2 separate regions of the Homo sapiens genome follow, and region 2 is linked to region 1. Evidence: fine-mapped expression QTL. A gene starts in region 1. The other region holds a variant in brackets. All regions are shown on one strand. Distances are from middle to middle. Region 1 holds the start of NAA60 (N-alpha-acetyltransferase 60, NatF catalytic subunit). Region 2 overlaps C16orf90 (chromosome 16 open reading frame 90).

Region 1 (8,323 bases):
CAGCTGCATCATCATAAAAATCACTAGGGAAAAGATATATACTTAAGAATAGGGGCCGGGGGCAGGGGCTCACGCCTGTAATCCCAGCACTTTGGGAGGCCAAGGCGGGCAGATCACAAGGTCAGGAGTTCGAGACCAGCCTGGCCAATATGGGGAAAACCCGTCCTCTACTAAAAATACAAAAATTCGCCAGGTGTGGTGGTACGCACCTATAGTCCCAGCTACTCGGGAGGCTGAGCCAGAAGAATTGCTTGAACCTGGGAGATGGAGGTTGCAGTGAGCAGGCCAGGTGCGGTGGCTCATACCTGTAATCCCAGCACTTTGGGAGGCTGACATGGGCGGATCACTTGAGGCCAGGAGTTTGAGACCAGCCTGGCCAACATGGCAAAACTGCATCTCTACTAAAAATACAAAAATTAAATGGTTGTGGTGGCATCTGCCCATCATCTCATCTACTCTGGTAGCTGAGGCACAAGAATCACTTGAACCCAGGAGGCGGAAGTTGCAGTGAGCAGAGATCGCACCACTGCTCTCCAGCCTGGGCAACAGTGAGACTGTCTCAAAAAAAAAAAAACAAATAATAAAGAGTAAATAGTGGTGATCTCTGGGTGACAGGAATGTGTTGCCATTTTTTCCCCTGTATTTTCTTTTTTTTTTTTTTTTCAGACAGAGTCTCACTCTGTCACCCAGGCTGGAGTGCAGTGGTGTGATCTCGGCTCACTGCAAGCTCCGCCTCCCAGGTTCACGCCATTCTCCTGCCTCAGCCTCCCGAGTAGCTGGGACTACAGGTGCCCGCTACCACGCCTGGCTAATTTTTTGTATTTTTAGTATAGATGGGGTTTCATCGTGTTAGCCAGGATGGTCTCGATCTCCTGACCTTGTGATCTGCCCACCTCAGCCTCACAAAATGCTGGGATTACAGGCGTGAGCCACCGCACCCAGCCTTTCCTAACTTTCTGAAATGCACATATACTACTTTTGTAATGATGTTAGTTTTACTATTTTTAAAAAGATAATTTTCAGAGAAAGCAGATGCTGGGCTATAGAAATAATTTCAATACAAACAGGTTGTAGTTGTTATTACTGGTACCATGTTAAAGACAGAAATGGAAAAACTTGCAAAAGATTGTCGTGGAAGGATTTTTAAATTTTGATGATTAAAACATGTTACTTGAACATATAGTGGGTATACAGTCAAGCATTTGTGATTTTTTACAAAATTGAGTTAGGGATATAATGTGGTCTAATTTTTCAATCTTGGTCTATCTTGGACTTTGTATGTCATCTCTTTATTTTCAGGAAGATAAAGCTTTCAAGCTTCCTCCTTCTTTGTCCACTTGTTTATAGTTTTGATGGCTCTTAGGAAAGATAGTCTAGGGAAGATTTTTTCCTCTCCCATTTCAGGTATATCCCTCTCTCTCTGGTAATCCACTGAGTTAATACCACATGCTTCATTTCAAAGCATTGGAAACTGTGTTTATTTCTTTGTAATTATGGCAACAGGATTTAAAGAAGAGAGCCACGGGAGTCTCTTGTTCTTGGTGAAAGAGCCACAAATCCAGATAAGGAGAATCTCAGACCACAATGAGACAGTGCTGATGTAAGAATAGCATTAAATAGGCGGGGCGCGGTGGCTCACGCTTGTAATCCCAGCACTTTGGGAAGCCGAGGTGGATCATGAGGTCACGAGATCGAGACCATCCTGGCCAACATGATGAAACCCCATCTCTACTAAAAATACAAAAAAAAAAAATTAGCCGGACGTGGTGGCGGGCACCTGTAGTCCCAGCTACTCAGGAGGCTTAGGCAGGAGAATCATTTGAACCCCGGAGGCAGAGGTTGCAGTGAGTCAGGATTGTGCCACTGCACCCCAGTCTGGCTACAGAGTGAGACTGTCTCAAAAAAAAAAAAAAAAAAGAGATAAGCACAAACCAAGAAGGGAAAGATGACTACGTGAACACCACAGTGACTCAACCATGAACATCTCCTTTACTTACACCTTCATATACAGGCTATTAGCTCTTCTTCAACATATATGCTTTGGACTGGTCTAGCCTGTAGGCAAGTTTGTTCTTACCATTCTTCCACCTGTCCTGGAAGCACCTTTACTGGGACTTCACAGCTACCTCTTTTGTGATCCATCCCCACAAGGTCTAGCTCTTAGTTAGCTGTCAAGAGATATCATTTGTGGCAGATACTGCTAGTTTCTTATCTAACTTATTTTCCACATCTCTTTTTTTCATTTGTAACAAAGCCCTAATTTTGTGCAGGTAGATTATCAAGGGAGGCTAGGTCCTTCCCCTAGTGACAGGGGCTGAAGCATGATGGGCCCCAAACAATTATTTATTCTTGGTAATAACTAGTTTAGGATGGGTACATGACACAATACATGTCTGTATATTTTACCTGGATTCTATTGTCAACGTTACCAACATGCTTAGGGTGGCAGAGAAGCACTGGGACCTTGATGTTGTCACTGGGCCACCGAATTAACCAACCTGTAACTGCTCTTTGAACATCCTTTCGGTGGGTTTTCTGTTACTTGTAGCTGAAACTATCCTATCAGATATTCCACAAAATCACATTACCTAAGTTGTCAAATCTCCTAATATTGTTTTAATAACCATGCAGCCATTCATTAAGCTTTTAGATACAGGAATGTGCCTGGCACTGGAATAAGGAAATATGTTGAGACTTTTCAGGCTTTTCTATCAAGGTACCTATCATTTTCGTCTTTTTTTTTCCCCAAACACCTTTATAAACTGGCAATTTCTTTCACTTACATTATCTTATAATCTTTGAAATTACCCTCTGAGTTAGCCCAGAGAGGCACTCTGAGCTGTTTGCAGCTGAGGAAAGCAAAGTTGTAAACTGGCCAAGATTACCAACCAATCAGTGGCAGAGCTTGGGGAGGAGCTCAATTTTCCAATTCCAAATGCCTACACCAGGGCACTCCCTCCTCCCCCAGCACACAATAGGAAATGACTGGCTCTAGGGTAGGCTGCATGTGAGGTATCCGGGGGCGAACAACGTCCTGCGACGCTAACCTATGGCTCTATTCTCGCGTGGGATCCTGTGACTAGGAAGCTGAAGCAGCTCGCTTAGGCTGCAGCTGCGGGTACAATACGTAATGCCTCTATAACACTTTGAGTCAGAGTCCAGCAACCTGGCCTACACCGATGTGAACGTTGTGAACGTACACAAAGATACTCCTTCATGTTCCACGGCCCCACCATCCGCTCAAGACACAAAGGACAGCTCAAGCCCAGGCTAGGCCCGAACCCCCGCCCTCTCAATCACCTTGCTCTGGCCAGACCGAAATTTCAGGCCTACAGGGCACTGTTGGCCGAACCCACATTTTGTTACCGATTTTCTTTCGAGTTCCGGTGTCTCCCAGTCTTCTTTCTGTCCTTCTTCTCGGAAACATTACGTCCCCCTGGGGTCACCCTAAGACTCTACTTCAGCAGGCAAACAGGCCCGGAGCTCACGGAGGAGACCCCGCCAGCGGAAGCGGAAATGGTTGCTTAGAGAAAAGGAGGAAAACTACCTCTCGCAGCTGCCCAGTGGCTACAGGTCCTCGGTTAAGGTGTTCAATTGGTCAACACAAAAGAAGGACTTCCCCTTCGGGAGAACTTCGACCAATCAAAGGGCAGGATGGCGGAGAGGGCTGAGGGCGGGTCGCTTCCGGCGGCTTTTCCCGCAGCTCCTGCGTAAAGGAGCATGAGAGCGTGGGAGTTTTGCAGTGGCCGTGGCGTTCTTCGTCGCGTCTCGGTCGGGCGTCGCTTTCTGCAGCTCCTGTCAGGGAGCGCGAGGCCTGTTATTAACCGCGGAGCGGTAAGTGGGCCCCTTTCGAGGCCGGGCCAAGAGGAGGAGCAGTCGGCGTAGGTTTTTAAGGGGGGGTTCGGAGGGAATCGAGGGAGGCTAGGGGTAGTGGAGGAACTTGGCAGCGGAATTGGTCCCTTTAAGAACTGTTCTCTCCCCCCGCAGCTTTGTCACGAAGTCCCTGTGGCGTCTTGAAGAAGGCATTCCCCACCCGCCAAATGGCGTCCATGCCCCCGACGCCCGAGGCCCAGGTGAGTCGAGGTACCTTTTTCGTCCAAGTTTATTGCTGCTTTCGGTCTCTGCCTGACCCCCTCCTTTGGAGGAGAGTTGGGCATGCCTGTTGTGGTAGGAGTGCTCCTGAGCCCCAAATAGCCCTTTGACCAAGTGTTCTTCGTTCCAAGACCACACACATAATGGTTTACCAACTTCCTTCTTTCAGAACTACCAACTGGGAGCAGGGACCTGTGGAGGAATCTCTGAGAGAGTTTCTCAATGTCTTATCTGTTTGTTTTGTTTTGTTTGGAGATAGGGTCTGGCCTTGTCGCTGGAGTGTTGCTTGTCTGGCTGGAGTGCAGTGCTGATATCATAGCTCCGTCTGGAACTCAGGGAATCCTTACGCCTCAGCCTCTCGAGTATCTGAGAGGCGCGCATACCACAGTGTCTGGCTACTTTTAAAAGTTCTTTTTTTTTTTTTTTTGATACAGAGTCTCGCTCTGTCGCCCAGGCTGGAGTGCAGTGGCGCGATCTCGGCTCACTGCAAGCTCCGCCTCCCGGGTTCATGCCATTCTCCTGCCTCAGCCTCCCGAGTAGATGGGACTACAGGCGCCTGCCGCCACGCCCTGCTAATTTTTTGTATTTTTAGTAGAGACGGGGTTTCACCGTGTTAGCCAGGATGGTCTCAATCTCCTGACCTTGTGATCCGCCCGCCTCGGTCTCCCAAAGTGCTGGAATTACAGGTGTGAGCCACTGCGCCCGGCCTAAAACTTCTTTATGGAGATGGAGTCTTGCTGCTTTGCCAAGGAACTCCTGGCCTTCAGCTATCCTCCCACCTCGGCTCCCCAAAGTGCTAGGATTAAAAGTGACTTTCTGGAATGGTTCCCAAAATTACAGATTTGGTACTTCTCCAATTTGAATGAATTTTTAAATTAAGCACATTTCTAGACTCCACACTCGTTGAGTAATAATAAATCCCAAGTGATTAATTTATCACACCGTTAGAGAAGGTGGGGTAGGCCTGGATGAAGTGCTGGAGTGAGCTTAGCAATGAGTGTCATGGGGACGAGAGGAAATAGCAAAGGGAAGGATGTTGGGAGAATCCTGTAACCTTTATCTCTTTATGATTCTTCCTGGGCTGCCCAACTTTCTCCTTTTCTTTTCTTTTTTTTTTTTTTTTTGAGACAGTCTCGCTGCGACGCCTAGGCTGGAGTGCAATGGCGCGATCTCGGCTCACTGCAATCTCTGCCTCCTGGATTCAAACGATTCTCCTGGCCCAGCCTCCCAAGTAGCTGGGACTACAGGCGCATGCCACCACATCTGGCTAATTTCATTTTATTTTAATTTATTTTTTGAGACAGAGTTTTTTTTGTTGTTGTTTTGTTTTTGTTTTTGTTTTTGAGATGGAGTGTCGCTCTGTTGCCCAGGCTGGAGTGCAGTGGCACGATCTCAGCTCACTGCAAGCTCTGCTTGAGACGGAGTTTTACTCTTGTTGCCCAGGCTGGAGTGCAATGGTGCAATCTCGGCTTACTGCAACCTCTTTCTCCTAGGTTCAAATGATTCTCCTGCCTCAGCCTCCCAAGTAGCTGGGATTATAGGCATGCGCCACCACACCTGGCTAATTTTTTGTATTTAGTGCAGACAGAATTTCACCATGTTGGTCAGGCTGGTCTTGAACTCCTGACCTCAGGTGATCCACTCGCCTCCACCTTCCAAAGTGCTGGGGTTACAGGCGTGAGCCACTGTGCCCAGCCTTAATTTTTGTAATTTTAGTAGAGACAGGGTTTCACCATATTGGCCAGGCTGGTCTCGAACACCTGACCTCAAGTCATCTGCATCCCCCTCAGACTCCCAAAGTGTTGGGATTACAGGCATGAGCCACCACACCCGGCCCCAAACCTCTCCTTTTCTTAGAGCATCCTCACTTAATGGTTGCCTCCCTAAGAGCCATTCCCTCATCTTTTCTCTTTCAAGATAGACAATAATTCTCACAGTCCACCGTCCTTGTACCACTGCCTAAAAATGTATGTCCATGTTTACTCTCTTCTTCCCAACCCTCACCCCACCCCTTAGAACCCATTTGCCCTACTTCTGCGCTCAAGAACCTTTTACACCGAGCCTTTTATCCCGTGCATCTGATGTTTCTAGCTCTTTTCATCCTTCCTAGGTTAAGTGAGGGGCTGACCCTCCACCCTCTTGTGCTGACACAGGCTCTTGTGTTTCAGGGACCAATACTCTTTGAGGATCTGGCTGTGTATTTTTCTCAAGAGGAGTGCGTGACTCTGCACCCTGCCCAGAGGTCCCTCAGCAAAGATGGTACAAAAGAGTCTTTGGAGGATGCGGCTTTGATGGGTAAGGCAATTGTTTTTCCTGCATCTGGAACTTTTGTCAATTCTAGGAGGAGAACTTCATGCTTTATCCAGATGTTGGTATGGTGGAGTGGGACCTGTCCCTCAGTAATTTATGTGGAGGTGATAATTGTGTGAGAGAAAAAGTTTTAAAATATGAGATGATTTTTTTTTTTTGAGACAGACTCTCGCTCTGTTGCCCAGGCTGGAGTGCAGTGGCACGATCTCTGCTCACTGCAAACCGCGCCTCCCAGGTTCACGCCATTCTCCTGCCTCAGCCTCCCGAGTAGCTGGGACTACAGCCGCCTGCCACCATGCCCAGCTAATTTTTTGTATTTTTAGTAGAGACAGGGTTTCACCGTGTTAGCCAGGATGGTCTCAATCTCCTGACCTTGTGATCACCCGCCTCGGCCTCCCAAAGTGCTGGGATTACAGGCATGAGCCACTGAGCCCGGCCGAGATGATCTCTTAAAGACAAAAATTCAGTCTAGTACAGTGCCTGTGGTTTAGTACAAGAGATGGCAGTATTTGGTAATCTTTCACAAACATTTGTTGCAGTTTACAATTTTACTTGGGAAATCCCATTAGTATCGATCACTATCATTTGCTAAAGACTGGAGATTGATTTACTCTTAAGGGGTGCTATGCCTTACTCACCTAAGGGGAACCATACACAGATGGACTCCTGTGCCTGACTAGATTTTATTTCTGACTAGGATTGAGTATCTAAACTATCTATTCTAAGTAGTTATTCTAAATAGTTTGGAATAGTTGAGATACTCAATCCTAGTCAGAAAAAAATAACTAGAGTAACTAGTTATTCTGAATAACTCATATTTTGTTTCTTCCACTTCTCTCTTCATCATGTTCATGTTGTCTTCTGTCTGCGTAAATGTATGGAGTATATTTATAATGGTTATTTAAACTTTTTTTTCTTGCTAGTTTTAACATTGATGTCATTTCTGGGTCTGTTTCTATTGATTGATTTGTCTTCTAGTTATGGGTTATATTTTCTATATTTTCTTTACTTCCTGGGTAAATTTTGGTCGGATGTTAGATTAAGAATTTTATGTTGTTGGACCCGGGATTTCGTTGTATTTTTAAAAATATTTTGGACTTTGTTGTGGGAGGCAGTTAAGTTACTTGGAGTCAGTTTGACTGTTTCAAGGTGTGCTTTTTTTTTTTGCTTTGTTAGGATAGGTTCAGATCAACCTTTCTGCTAGGACTTATTTGAGTTACTGCTAAGGCAGTTTTTTTCTGTGGACGTTGCTGCTCAATGTCTTATGTCTTTCCACTTTGGCTGGAGGCAACATGAACTGGTTATTGCTCTGTTATTCCTTTTAGGTGGTTCTTTCCACGGCATTGGGTAGTTTCTTCATGCACTTGTAGATTACTACTCAGCCAAAGTTGTGGGGTTATTTTTTTTTTGATACAGTATCTTGATCTGTCACCCAGGCTGGAGTGCAGTGGCACAATCACGGCTCACTGCAGCCCTGACCTCCCAGGCTCAAGCAGTCCTCCCACCTCAGCCTCCCAAGTAGCTGGGACTACAGGCATGCACTACCATGCTTGTCTTTTTTTGTTGTTTTTTTTTTGTAGGGATGGGGCTTTGCCATGTTGCCCAGGCTGGTCTCGAGCTCCGTGGCTCAAGCAATTCTCCCACCTCAGCCTCCCAATGTGCTGGGATTACAGGTTTGAGCCACTGTACCTAGCCTCAGGAAAGTCTTAAGGGGACCCCATGTAGATGACCTGAGCTCTCTTTCTGAACAGCTGCCTCTTTGCTGTTTTGCTTTCAAATTCTAGCTGCCTTGGCATCCCTGATCTCTGAACTCAGTCCCCTCAAATCAGCAAAACCACTTGGTACTGTTTGGATTCCCATGAACTATACTGCAGCCCTTTCTAGTCAGTGAGTTGGGAAAACTGTAGAACTTTGTTTCTCT
Region 2 (8,323 bases), 48 kb before region 1:
CTGGCCACTTTCTCTCAAACCCACTGTGCAATTTCTCTGTGGGGACCAGAATACTCTTCCTAGGGTAGCGGGCAGAACAGGGTAGTAGAAAGGACTTGAGGTCCTGAAAGCACTCTTAGTACCAAGGCCCGAGGCTTCCCAGGCCTCCCTGTTGGTTGGGAGTGGGAAGAGGAGTCGTGTCTTGGGCATGGGCAGGGGAGGCAGTGGACTGAGACTATTTGACACACAGGTAAACTGAGGCCAGGTTGGCTGGGGGTGTAGCCCATCATGTGAGCTGGTCTCAGAGGTATGTGACTGCACCCTCCCCTCATGGCTGCTGTGGGGGGCTGGCCACCACCCTCCCGCTGTCTCCTCTGCAGATGCAGTGAGCCAGGCCCAAGGACGCCCCGGCCACCCTGACGCACCCCCCAACATCTACGAGGGGGGCCTGGGGTCCCCGCAGCCGCAGTGCCCCAGTGCCCAGGGAAGCAAGCCCAAGAACTTCCGGCTGCGCCACCTCCGGGGCCTGGGCCTCTACCTGGAGAGCCACCCGCCACCCACTGGCCAGTGTGAGAGCCACTGGCTGGGCCGGCTTATGGCTGGGGGCTGCCTGCCACAGCCTGAGGGCACAGCCTGGGCCCTGGACCTGCCACAGGGGACTCTGGGCCCACGTAACAGCCTCTGTTCAGCCCTTCTGGAAGCCCGATTGCCCAGGGACAGCCTGGGAAGCAGTGGTGAGCTCTGTCAAGGCAGGACTGGGCACGGGGGAAGACCCTAGGGGATGGTTGGGCTGGGGCCTCAGGCGGGCCCTTCTCCACTCCCAAGCCTCCACAGTGGCACCATGCCCCAGAAGGCCAAGATCTTGATGAATCTGTCCCCATCTCTGCATCACGCACAGCTAAGCGGGGTCTGGAGAATCCACCAGGGACAAAGCGGTGCGAGAAAAAGGGAGGATCTGGGAGGGAGGGCTGGGTGACTGCCCCAGCTCCACACTCGGTGAGGGGCCTTGGAATCTGTCTCCCTTGCTGGGCCTCAGTTTTCTCACTTGTAAAATGAGGGTTCAGGTTAGATGAGGGTCCTTCCAGCTTGAACCATTCTGTTCCCTCAACCTCCTCCCTCCCCTGGGGATTCTGTTAAGGAGGAAGCATTGCCCTCCTCCCTTCTGTTTTCAAGAATATCGGATTCTGGAAACCCCAGGGTGGGCTGCCAGCCTCCCCCCCAGCCTCCCCTTGGGTCCCTCAAGTGACTCCTTTCTCTCCTCTTTCCTCAGCTTCCAGTTCCAGCATGGACCCAGACAAGGGTGCCCTCCCCCAGCCTAGTCCTTCTAGGCTCAGGCCCAAGAGGTCCTGGGGGACCTGGGAAGAGGCCATGTGTCCCTTGTGCAAGAGAACCCGCTCTGGGGCCCTGGAGAGGCCATAGGGATCCCGAGTGCCAGGACTGGGTACAGGAGGGGCAGGATGGCCGAGGAGGCAGCCTGAGCAGGAGGGGCTCGGCCCCCGGCAGTGGCCCTGCCACATGGGGTGGCCCAGGCAGCGGCCCAGCGCCCAGGCCTGGGCCTCGGGAGAATGTGATGGGGAGAGGGAGGAGGAGGAGGTTCCGAGGGAGGGGCAGAAGCAATAGAAGCATGGCCGTGCCCTTGCAGCCTGCTTAGACTCCAGTCAGCCACTTGTACCTGGGAGGCCGGGCTGAGTGCAGAATCAGGCCCCCCCGCCACCGCCTCCCTGAGAGGCCGGGGAGCCCACAGCTCTGATCTCAATAAAAGCCAAGGCCTGCACGTTCTTGTCCATCTGCCTGTCTGTCATCAGGCCAGTTTGGTGAGAAAAACAGTCCTGTGTCTCTCCAGGGATGGGTCTGCCGCGCCCCCACTCTTAGTTGCCAGGGCATGAGAGGCGTGAGCTAGGGCAAGGGCCTGTGGGAACACCATACTTGTCTGTGAGAGCTTCCTGGATGAGACACTGCTGAGCTTGGCTCCATAGGGTGGGTAGGGGCTCAACAGCCCACCTTTTCAGCCACCATGCCTGGCTAATTTTCTTTTCTTTTTTTTTTTGAGATGCAGTCTAGAACTGTCTAGAGGCCAATTTAGAGCCAGTTTTCTTTGGGGCCAGCATGTGGCTGCAGCAGATGTCCTTCTCAGGGGTGAGATCCTGGCTACGGCTGTCTGTGGCTGAGTTACAGACTGTCTTTTTTTTTTTTTTTTTTTTGAGACGGAGTCTTGCTCTGTGGCCCAGGCTGGAGTGCAGTGGTGCAATCTCGGCTCACTTCAAGCTCCAACTCCCAGGTTCACGCCATTCTCCTGCCTCAGCCTCCCGAGTAGCTGGGACTATAGGCGCCCGCCACCGCGCCCGGCTAATTTATTTGTATTTTTTTAGTAGAGACGGGGTTTCACCGTGTTAGCCAAGATGATCTCCATCTCCTGACCTCAGCCTCCCAAAGTGCTGGGATTACAGGCGTGAGCCGCCGTGCCCGGCCTAATTTTCTGTTGTTTTAAGAGTTGGGGGGAGGGGGTCCTGCTGTTGCCCAGGCTGGTCTCAAACTCCTGAGCTCAAGTGATCCTCCTGCCTCAGGAGGATCCTAAATGCAGGCCATGGCATTGTGGGTGGAGGGCGCAGCGGATGAAGGAAGGCAGGGCGGGGTCAGGGAGGGCACCAGGGAGGACAGCAGCAGAGGCAGGGATGTGGACCTCGGCCCCACCTGCCCCCTACCAGGTGAGGTCACTGCTCCGCGGGACCCCAGCTCCCAGGTCCCTCTGGGCAGGATGAGCACAGCCCTTCTCCTCCCAGCCGGACCAGACTCTGCGCACCCAGGTGTGGGCTTCCTCTGTGCCGGGGTGTCTCCACTCGACTCTGTTGATGTTTGGGATGGGATCTTTCTTTGGGATGGAGGCTGTCCTGTGCATGTAGGATGTTAAGCAGCATCTCTGGCCACCACCCACTTGGTATCTGTAGCACCCTCCTCTAAGCTGTGACAGCAAGTGTCTCCAGACATTGTCCGGTGTCCCTCGGGAGCACTGTTACTGTGGATGAGAAGCCTGCTGATACAGTTAGGCTGTGTCCCCACCCAAATTTCATCTCCAATTGTAATCCCCATGTGTTGAGGGAGGGTTCTCATGGGAGGTGATTGGATCATGGGGTGGGGGGTGGGGGGTTCCGCCATGCTGCTCTCATGATAGTGAGTTATCACAAGATCTGATGGTTTAAAAGTGTTTGGCGGTGGGCCAGGTGCAGTGGCTCACGCCTGTAATGCCAACACTTTGGGAGGCTGAGGCGGGCGGATCACAAGGTCAGGAGATCAAGACCATCCTGGCTAACACGGTGAAACACTGTCTGTACTAAAAATACAAAAATTAGCCGGGCATGGTGGCAGCTGCCTGTAGTCCCAGCTACTCAGGAGGCTGAGGCAGGAGAATGGCATGAACCCGGGAGGCAGAGCTTGCAGTGAGCCGAGATTGTGCCACTGCACTCCAGCCTGGGTGATAGAGTGAGACTCTTGTCTCAAAAAAAGAAAAAAATAATAAAATGTGTTTGGCAGTTCCACCCTTCCTCCCCACCACCGCCTCTCTCTCTCTCTGTCCTGCCGCCTTGCCAAGAAGGTGCCTGCTTCCCCTTTGCCTTCCATGGTGATTGTAAGTTTCCTGAGGCCTCCCAGACACCTGGAACGCTGAATCAATTAAACCTCTTTTGTTTATAAATAACCCAGTCTCAGGAAGCAGTGTCAAGACGGACTAACACACTTGTTCTATTCCACCAGGTCTCCATCCTATGGGAAGAAGACGGGAGCACCTGGGTTTGCCTCAGTGACCTTCCCGTCTGGTCACTCCAGCCGGTGCAGCCCGGGTCAGGCTAGGGCTCAGCGCCACCCCTGCTTTGGGCTCCTGCCAGGTCGCATGTGACGTGCCCAGGACAGCCAGGCTCCTTCCCTTCTCCTGTACCCACCCTGGACAGTTCTTGTGTCCCTGGGACAGCAGATCCTGGAGACTTCAGTCCTTGGGTGGTTTTATGGGTTGTTCTAAGTATGCAGGCATGGCCCGGGGTGGGGGACACCCAAGGCTGTAGCGGTCCCCAGGAGGGGGAGCTCTGAGAGAGCAGGTGTTTACATGCTGCACCCAAGAGCAGCTGTGATGGGGCAGGTGTGGGTGGGATGCAGCGGGCCTGAGGTCCACTGATGAGTCACATGGGGTGGCGGAGGGGCAGCTGCCTTCTCTCTCTCCCACAACACTCATTCCCCAGAGACGCAGAGGCCAGGTGGATCCAAGAGACCACTTAAAGACTGACATTAGGGAGGCTGCTGAGTAAACA[T/G]GGAAGGACGCCTGCACCAGCCACCAGCTGCGGACGCTGGGCATAACTGAGGCCGCACAGAGGCCAGCAATACAAAGTCCTTGGAGCTTGGAGACCGTTAGGGGCCTAATCCACTTTTTTTCCCCTTTTCTTTTTTTTGAGACAGTGTCTCACTGTCTCCCAGCCTGGAGTGCAGTAGCATGATCTTAACTCACTGCAGCCTTGAACTCCTGGCCTCAAGTGATCTTCCTGCCTCAGCCTCCTGAGTAGCTGGAACCAAAGGCAGTTGCCACCATGTCCAGCTAATTACAAACTTTTTTTTGGTAGAGAAAGGGTCTTGCTATGTTGCCCCTGGTCTCCAACTCCCAGCCTCAAGCAATGCTCCCGCCTCCACCTCCTAAAGTGCTGGGATTATAGGTGAGGCTCCACGCTGGGCCCTATGTTTAACAATCATAGCTCACTGCAGCCTTGAGCTCCTGAGCCAAGTGACCCTACCATCTCAGCCTCCTGAGTAGCAGAGACTACAGGCGTGGGCCACCACCATGCCCAGCTTTTTTTTTTTTTTTTTTTTTTTTTTTTTTTTTTTGAGACGGAGTCTTGCTCTGTCGCCCAGGCAGGAGTGCAGTGGCATGATCTCGGCTCACTGCAACCTCCGCCTCCTGGGTTCACCATTGTCCTGCCTCAGCCTCCTGAGTAGCTGGGACTACAGGCGCCCGCCACCACGCCCGGCTAATTTTTTGTATTTTTAATAGAGATGGGGTTTCACCGTGTTAGGCAGAATGGTCTCGATCTCCTGACCTCGTGATCTGCCCTCCTCGGCCTCCCAAAGTGTTGGGATTACCAGTGTGAGCCACCGCGCCTGGCCGATTTTCTATTTTTTTAAGAGATGAGGGTCTCACTATGTTTCCCAGGCTGGTCTTGAACCCCTGAGCTTAAGAGATCCTCCCACCTTGGCCTCCTGAAGTACTGGGATTACAGGCATCAGCCACCGCACCTGGACTCCACTCACTTCTGAACAAAGAGTGGAGGCTCAGAGAGGAGCACAGGTTGCCCCAGGCTCCAGATTTTGGGTGGGTGGGGGGGGGGGTCCCAGGCTATGGTCAGTGGCCCTTCTGCTACCCCGGATGAGCCACGTGTCTTCGTGTTCTGGCCCCTGTGTAGCCCCCTCCCCTTGAATTGGGACAGGCTCCAGATCCTGCTTTACCAGTAGAATGTGGCAGAAGTGGCGGGGTGTCACTTCTGGGCAGTAAGGAAGCCTGGCAGCTTCCCAGGAGGTCAGTGGCCCCGTAAGGAGTCTACCCTGGGACTGTGGTATGGTGCAAAACCAGCCTAGCCTGAGGAAGCCATGGAAGGAAGGAGCCAAGCCCATGGCCACTGCTGAGCTCACTGTGGGCAGCCCTGTGGGTAGGGCCATCTTTCACACAGGTCCTCCAGCCCCGCCAGCCTGCCTGGCTAATACCACATGGAGTCCCTGCTGACTCCTGTCCCAGCTGGAATTGGAAGCAAACAGAATGGCCCCTGCTTAGGCTGTGAAGCTTTAAGACAGTCTGTTACTCCGGCAGGCACGGTGGCTCATGCCTGTAATCCCAGCACTTTGGGAGGCCGAGGTGGGCAGATCACGAGGTCAGGAGATCGAGACCATCCTGGCTAACACGGTGAAACCCCATCTCTACTAAAAATACAAAAAAAATTAGCCAGGCATGGTGGCGGGCCCCTGTAGTCCCAGCTACTCCAGAGGCTGAGGCGGGAGAATGGTGTGAACCCGGGAGGCGGAGCTTGCAGTGAGCCGAGATCACGCCACTGGACGCCAGTTTGGGGGAGAGAGCAGGTTCCGTTTCAAAAAAAAAAAAAAAAAAAAAAAAAAAAAAAAAGACAGTCTGTAACTCAGCCACAGACAGCTGTAGCCAGGATCTTACCCGAGAGGACATCTGCTGCAGCCACATGCTGGCCCCAAAGAAAACTGGCCCTAAATTGGCCTCTAGACAGTCCCTCCCGCAAAACCTCCCAAAGCCTTTTTGAGAAGCACTCCAACAGACTGAGAGGCAAAAAAGCCACAATCATGGCACGCTGGGGTGGGAGTCGATGTGGAGAAAGCAGCACTTGGCCTGAGCAAGCGGACGCTCATGAAAATACACATTGACCTCAGCCGGACGCGGTGGCTCATGCCTGTAATCCCAGCACTTTGGGAGGCCGAGGCGGGCGGATCACGCGGTCAGGAGATCGAGACCATCCTGGCTAACATGGTGAAACCCCGTCTCTACTAAAAATACAAAAAAATAGCCGGGCATGGTGGCAGGCGCCTGTTGTACCAGCTACTCGGGAGGCTGAGACAGGAGAATGGCGTGAACCCGGGAGGCCAAGCTGGCAGTGAGCCAAGATCTCACTCTGTTACCCAGGCTGGAGTGCAAACAGAATGAGATTCCATCTCAAAAAAAAAAAAAAAAAAGAAAATACACTGACCATCCCTGGGCACGCCCCTTACCCCGTGAGTCCCTGAACGCCGGTGGGCTAGGAATGGAAGACCAGGAGTCTGTCTCCGTCCTGAAAGTATGAAGGACCCCTACCCTATAGGAGATCCTTGGGTGGTGTGTGCAGGGAGCGGGGAGACCCAAGGCTGCCTCGGGCTCCACCCCTGAGCAGGCCTGGGGCAGAGCCAGCTCCGTTCAGGGCTGGCCTCCGTGCTATGTCCAGGTGCATCCTGTGTGTGTCCTACCTCTCCCTGGGTCCCACACTCCCTTTCTGCCCCCCAGTGGAGCACGAGCGTTTGTGTCCCAGCTCTGCGGTCCGGTGGGGCTATGGTGAGAGGCCTGGAGCAGTGGCAGTCCTGCCTGGCCTCACTGAAGCAGGGCCTGAGGAGCCGCAGCCCCACCTGGGCAAGTTACTAACTGGTCACACGATTGACCAAGGGCCCCAAAGAGTTACCCTCTTAACCGCAAGCTGACTCATCAGCAAAGGTGCAACTGTCCTTGCTGGAGTAACCAAGACTGTGTCTCCCCAGCAGACGCTCCCGTGGGCAAGCTCAGCGGGTTAATCTGGTTTCACTCACCCCATGGCTTTGGACATGGGTCCAGCGCGCCCAGCTGCCTGGCCTCCCAGGGCACCAGCGTCCACCCCTACTCCATCTTGCAGATGCTTCAGACCCTCTCCTGGGAGGACCCTCGGCAAGTTGCATGTCTCCCGGCCACTGGATGAGGTCAAAGGCACAGGAATGGTGTAACAGAGCAGCCACGCAGGCTTCAGAGTGGCCCAGGCCTGGGCCCAACACTCACAAACTGTGGCTCCTTGGTAACTCCCAGCCCCCGAGCCAGTTCTCCTCATCTCTAAGAGGAACAATATCATCCCTTGAGGGTGACCAGAAGTTTCCATGAGAGGCTGACGGAAGCACCAGGTCTGTGCTGGGTGGGCACGCACCTCAGGCTCCACAGCAGGGTGCACCAAATCACCCTTGGAGCCGCCTGCCTGGACTGGGCCCCAGCTCAAGGCCTACAGCCAGGGAGATGCCCAGACAGGGCAGCTGCTGGGGACCTTCCAGTGAAAAAAGGACCTAATGTGCTTCTCAACTCTAGAACCTCTTCCCCAGTTTCACATTCTTTTTCTGGAGTCTCGCTCTGTCACCAGGCTGGAGTGCAATGGCGCCATCTCAGCTCACTGTAACCTCCGCCTCCTGGGTTCAAGCTCTCCTGCCTCAGGCTCCCGAGTAGCTGGGGCTACACGTGCACACCACCACGCCCGGCTAATTTTTGTATTTTAGTAGAGATGAGGTTTCACCATGTTGGCCAGGCTGGTCTCGATCTGACCTCGTGATCCGCCCACTTCGGCCTCCCAAAGTGCTAGAATTACAGGCGTGAGCCACCGTGCCTGGCCAAAGGTCCTCATTCTCTGACAGGGTTAATCACACAAAACCACTGTCCCCTTTATCTGGAAGCCATCCTTGGGCCTTGCCAGTGACAAGTAGCTCGAGGCCAACTTCAGCTACAGGGTGAGGCCCGAGGTGCAGCCAGGCGGGTGCGGGAAACAGGATGTGACGAACTCCAATGAAAGTCTATTTATTTGCTCGTAATGAGACAGAA

The links.
Region 2: its variant is fine-mapped to the expression of NAA60 in lung (TOPMed, PIP above 0.99).

What each region holds. Positions count from the first base shown.
Region 1 is chr16:3,438,871-3,447,193 of GRCh38, reverse strand. NAA60 (N-alpha-acetyltransferase 60, NatF catalytic subunit) reads right to left here and starts at 3,514. Exons shown (of 8, transcript NM_001083601.3): 1 at 3,357-3,514. ZNF597 (zinc finger protein 597) reads left to right here and starts at 3,690. Exons shown (of 4, transcript NM_152457.3): 1 at 3,690-3,834; 2 at 3,988-4,073; 3 at 6,261-6,387. The coding sequence starts at 4,041. RefSeq lists an enhancer at 3,281-3,430.
Region 2 is chr16:3,486,914-3,495,236 of GRCh38, reverse strand. It overlaps C16orf90 (chromosome 16 open reading frame 90), which reads left to right. Exons shown (of 3, transcript NM_001080524.2): 2 at 360-713; 3 at 1,250-1,753. The coding sequence ends at 1,398. It overlaps NAA60 (N-alpha-acetyltransferase 60, NatF catalytic subunit), which reads right to left. Exons shown (of 8, transcript NM_001083601.3): 8 at 8,284-8,323. Among named protein-coding and RNA genes, the nearest start is that of C16orf90, 4.4 kb to the left of the region's middle. RefSeq lists a silencer at 1,980-2,189 and an enhancer at 6,854-7,148. The variant T/G (reference allele first, on the strand shown) is at 4,275.